2 separate regions of the Homo sapiens genome follow, and region 1 is linked to region 2. A link means that fine-mapping ties the variant in region 2 to the expression of a gene that starts in the linked region. Tissue or cell type: monocytes after LPS. Region 2 holds a variant in brackets; the other region holds the start of a gene. All regions are shown on one strand. Distances are from middle to middle.

Region 1 (2,687 bases), 66 kb after region 2:
GAGTCTCATTCTGTCGCCAGGCTGAAGTGCAGTGGCACAATCTCGGCTCACTGCATCCTCCGCCTCCAGGGTTCAAGCGATTCTCCTGCCTCAGACTCCCGAGTAGCTGGGACTACAGGCACGGGCCATCACGCCCGGCTAATTCTTGTATTTTTAGTAGAGACGGGGTTTCACCATGTTGGCCAGGATGGTCTCGATCTCCTGACTTTGTGATCCGCCCGCCTCGGCCTCCCAAAGTGCTGGGACTACAGGCGTGAGCCACCGCGCCGGGCCGGACCTCTTAACCTACATCTAAACAATGCCTACCAAAGGAAGTATGGAGTAAAGAAAGGTATCTCAGTATTAAAAGAAATAAGTTGGCTGGCGAGGTGGCTCACGCCTGTAATCCCAGCACTTTGGGAAGCCCAGGCGGGCGGATCACTTGAGGTCAGTAGATCGAGACTAGCCTGACCAACGTGGTGACCCGTCTCTACTAAAAATACGAAAATTAGCCGGGCGTGGTGGCAGGCGCCTGTAGTCCCAGCTACTCGGGAGGCTGAGGCAGGAGAATCGCTTGAACCCGGCAGGCGGAGGTTGCAGTGAGCCGGAATCGCGCCACTGCACTCCAGCCTGGGCGACTGCTATGTCTCAAAAAAAAAAAAAAAAAAAAAAACACGTTCAAATAAGTTCAATGTGGCTGGGGCAGAGATGCTAGAGAAAGCGGTGAGAAACTAGGAAAGGTGGGTAAGGACCAGATAATGAAGACCTTTGCAAGCGTTCCAGTGTGAAGCAACTTTAACATCTAAAGCAGAGGTGTCGTGATTAGAAAGACGTTATAGATCTTTGTGGATCTGGGCAAAGGAAGAGTCCCCGAGCAGCAAAGACGCTCCTGGAGTCGTCCAGGTTAGAAATGACGGTGGCCTGCACTAGAGACGCCGCAGAAAGGACTGGAGAAAAATACATGTTAGTCGGAAAAGAAGGTAGAATCTCCCGACACAGTAGTGACCAGCTGGAAGTAAAGTTGAGAACGGTATTGGTGGTGACTCCCGGTTTCTGGATCCCGCCGGTAGCCGAGGGGCGACGGCCGACCCAAAGCTCACCTCCCCACTGCACGCCGCCCCTGGATCGAGTACCTTGGTGCTTTACTATTTAGCACACGGAAGTGTTGTTCTGTTGTCCGTGTCTCCTTGGAGACCGTGGAGAACAGAAGGGCCGGCGGGGGTTTTCGCTTTGTACTCCTGGTGCCCAGCCGGCGCTGCAATCCAGCAGAGGAGCCGGACTAGAAACGCGGAAGCTCTGGGTGCACGCGCCCGGCCCGGGACTGGGCGGCCCAACCGGGAGGGCGGCGGGTCCTGCGGCCACGCAACAGGCGTTGGGGAAGCAGCAGAGACCCTGCGTGCGCGCGGGCTTCGGCCTCCAGATTCCGCAGAGTCCCGGGCCCGATCCCCCCGGGGCTGGCCTCCTGCCCTACGTGGGCCCCGCGCGCCCACCTGGAACTCACGATGGCGAATCCGTGGTCACCTGAAGGCAACAGCACCGGCGCCCAGTGCGCCTGCGCCGCGCGTGCGCAGAGCCCTCGCCTCCCGGCCTCGCCTCGCAGACGCGACGGGCCGGGGAGGAAGCGCTCGGAGCAGTGCAGGTTTCGTTATCCTGTGTTAGGTCACTCCGGAGAGGGGAAAGCGGCCCACAGCGTCGCGCGACCCGGAAACGACACAACGAGGCCCAATCTTTTAGACTCGAGTTTAGGCCCCGGGGTGGAGTCTCCGGACCGGGTCCCCCCACCCCCGCTACAGGGGCAGTGCGCAGGCGCGAGGTATGTATCGCGAGACCATGCGGTTGCCCGGGTAACCAGACGCTCAGGACTTGGACCGTCCAGTTGTTCGGAGGCCAGCCTATAGCCAATGGTATCCCGAGGGCTCGCTCTCTCCGGGCGTTTGTGCTCCCCTCTCTCTTCTAACCCAGTTTCTACCTTTCAGTGCTTTGGAATCTTAGCCCTCTGTCTCTATTCGCTTTTCTGTATTTGCCTTGCCTCAGGGACGCACAACCCCAGCCCCTGTCCCAGTGAGCCCGTCGCCATGGAATCCCTGCAGACTCCCCAGCACCGCGAAAATCAAGATAAAAGGGAGAAGGAGTATGGGGTAAAACACATGCCTATGGGCAATAATGCAGGGAATCTTGAGCCCGAAAAGAGAAAGGCAGTAAGAGTTGCCTTGAGTTCAGCAACAGCTGCACAGAATATCCCGTCCAGTGTCCACTGTGGCTGCTCCAAGCAATGGAGACTCAGGCTACCATCGGAGTCGCTGCAAAGTCGGGGACAAGTGATGAAGCGGCCGAATAACATTTTAAAGCTCAGGAATCTGGATCTGTTGATCTACCCTTGGCCAGAACTTAGAAGACGGCAGGTTGCTTCTGACCTAATGAGCCTCCTCCTTCTCCCCGCTTTTTCCGGCCTTACTTGGGCCCCCTTCCTTTTCCTCTTTACGTATCTGCCTCCTTTTCTCAATCTCCTCACTGTTGGTTTTGTATCCTATTTTCTGGTATAGTTTCTGTGATTTCTTTCTTTTATTTATTATTATTATTGTTGTTGAGACAGAGTTTTGCCCTTGTTGCCCAGGCTGGAGTGCAATGGCGCGAACCTGGCTCACTCCAGCCAGCGCCTCACAGGTTCAGGTGATTCTCCTGCCTCAGCCTCCGGAGTAGCTGGGGTT
Region 2 (2,687 bases):
ACCATGTTGGTCAGGCTGGTCTTGAACTCCTGACCTCAGGTGATCCCCTGGCCTCGGCCTCCCAAAGTGCTGGGATTACAGGCCATGGTGCCCGGCCTGGAGGATGAATTTCCTAGGAGCTTTCACCGTTGGATCTGAGGTTAAGATGCTCAAGGATCTTTAATACTTCCCTCATTTTGCTGTGTTTTTGCCTTCTGTTACTTTCTTCTGAAGGGCTTTGGGGACATTGAGGACAGGCCAAATTGTTGAAGAATTATTTAGAACCCACTGTCTTCTCGCTGTCCTTTTGATGTCCGGCTTCTCCAGTTATGAAATACATTTGGTATTGGTCATGATCTCTTACTGAGCTAATGTTATGGTCCATTGTTGGAGACAGAGTCAAATAAAATTCGTGTTGAACTTTGGTAACAAAACCAAATCTGTCCCCTTGCTTAACCAACATTGACTTACAGAGAGCATATACTTCCTAGAAAAATAGATGTTTCTCATAGCTTTCCGTTAAGAGAGCTTTTCCCTCAATATTCACTGGAAGCAGCTACTAAGAAGATTTATATAGGAACCAAAATAAACATAGGTGAGTATGTTTTTGTTGGCAGATACATGACTAAATTAGTCCCTGGGGTAGACATGAAATAGGGTTAAGACCTTTTTTTTTTTTTTTTTTTTTTTTGAGACCAATTCTCGCTCTGTCCCCCAGGCTGAAGTGCAGTGGCGCGATCTCGGCTCACTGCAAGCTCTGCCTCCCAGGTTCACGCCATTCTCTTGCCTCAGCTTCCGGAGTAGCTGGGACTACAGTAGGCGCCCGCCACCACGCCTGGCTAATTTTTTTGTATTTTTAGTAGAGACGGGGTTTCACCATGTTAGCCAGGATGGTCTCCATCTCCTGACCTTGTGATCCGCCCGCCTCGGCCTCCCAAAGTGCTGGGATTACAGGCGTGAGCCACCGTCCCCGGCCTAAGACGTTTTTAAGAGTTCTTTTTCTTAGAAAGATTGAAGATCTGGTATTGGACAAAGATGAAAACTTTGGAATTCTTTTAACAAAGAACATAATCTGTCTTCTACCATCCCCAATTTAGGGGGTAAAAAAAGGAAGTTCTTCTTTGGGCACTATGTTGTTGTATCTGACTT[C/T]ATATGTCTGTTGTTGAAATTGAGTTGGGAACTTCCCCTTTGTCAGCTGTGTGGTATCAGTGGGAAAATGCAGAAACATTATGACTTGCAATAAGTTTTTCTTATGGAAAATTTAGGGATAACTCAAAGCTGCCCTTTCTGAAATTTGATCTGTTATCAACTGTATAAATCTAAATGGAAAAATAGATTAACGACAGTCTTTGCCTGAGGGACCTCCTCAAATCAAGAACTACTGTTTGAAATGATCAAGTGTCTGCTAAGACTTGCATCTGAATGGGTGATGTCACCCTTTGGCCCAGAACAAATTTTTTCCAGGGTTGTCTAAATATAGGACACATACTTTGCCATCTTTGTTTGTTAGTGCAAATGTACGTTATACATCTATACTAGTTAAAATCACTTTATTTTAACAGAACCAAGTTCTACTCCAAGTTCAAGAAATTGATTGTTGTTTTCTTTGAAAACATGTTAATGACGTTTTAAAAATACGCTTATTCAAAAATCAAACAATAGGGCCAGGTGTGGTGGCTCATGCCTGTCATCCCAGTGCTTTGGGAAGCCAAGGTGGAGGATCGCTTGAGGCCAAGAATTCAAGATCAACCTGGGGAACATAGCAAGACCCTATCTCGATGAAATAAAAAATGAGCTAGACATGGTGGTGCATGCGTATAGTTCCAGCTACTTGGGAGGCTGAGATGGGAGAATTGCTTCAGCCCAGAGAGCTGTGATCGCACTACTGTACTCCAGCCTGGGCAACAGAATGAGACTCTGTCTAAAAATATACATATATATATATCTCTCTCTTATATGTATATATTTATATATATCACATATATAAATATCAAAAGATATCAAATATATAGATATATAAATATCAAATATATAGAGATATATAAATATCAAATACAGATATATAATATCAAATACATAGAGATATATAAATCAAATATATATATAAATAAAATATATATATATATCAAACAATAAGGTATATAAGGTAGAGTGAAAGCCCCTGGTCACCTTATTTCCCAGAGCTGTCACCACTGATAGTTTAATGAACTCACTTTTTAATATGTGTGTGTGTTTAACATCGCTGGGATCTTACTGTACCTGGGTGCATTTGTTACCATGTATGTTTCGCTGACTCTTATTGTTGTGTGCTGGAACTTTCTGGGGTGATAGTAATCCAGTTGGGCAGTCATCAACACATGGAGCACTTGCATGTGACAAGTGTGACTGAGCTGAATGTTTTTATTTTATTTGAATTAATTTAAATTTAAATAGCTCCATGTGACTAGTGGCTATCATACTGGACAGCTCAGATCATATTCAGTCTTTGAATTTTGTTTATAAGCTTTCTTGGTACTCAAAAATTTCTGTATTTTATTTCCTGTCTTTGGTAGAATATGTCTAGTTTTCATTCTTTTTTTCTTCTGTGGATTATCTGTACACTTTTTTTTTTTTTTTTTTTTTGAGACAAGGTCTCACTCTGTCATCTGGGCTGGAGTGCAGTGGCACAATCTCAGCTCACTACAGCCTTGACCTCCTGGACTCAAGTG

Evidence for each region. PIP is the estimated chance that this variant, and not a neighbour inherited with it, causes the effect.
Region 1: it holds the start of RPP38, and the variant in region 2 is fine-mapped to the expression of RPP38 in monocytes after LPS (Quach 2016, PIP 0.95). The same link has a PIP of 0.9 or more in monocytes.

What each region holds. Positions count from the first base shown.
Region 1 is chr10:15,096,192-15,098,878 of GRCh38, reverse strand. It overlaps RPP38 (ribonuclease P/MRP subunit p38), which reads right to left and starts at 1,524. Exons shown (of 3, transcript NM_183005.5): 1 at 1,113-1,524. It overlaps RPP38-DT (RPP38 divergent transcript), which reads left to right and starts at 1,560. Exons shown (of 2, transcript NR_160789.1): 1 at 1,560-1,792; 2 at 2,014-2,687. RefSeq lists enhancers at 817-956, 1,017-1,106, 1,408-1,979 and a silencer at 1,247-1,606.
Region 2 is chr10:15,162,166-15,164,852 of GRCh38, reverse strand. All of the region lies in intron 1 of NMT2 (N-myristoyltransferase 2), which reads left to right. Among named protein-coding and RNA genes, the nearest start is that of NMT2, 5.2 kb to the left of the region's middle. The variant C/T (reference allele first, on the strand shown) is at 1,129.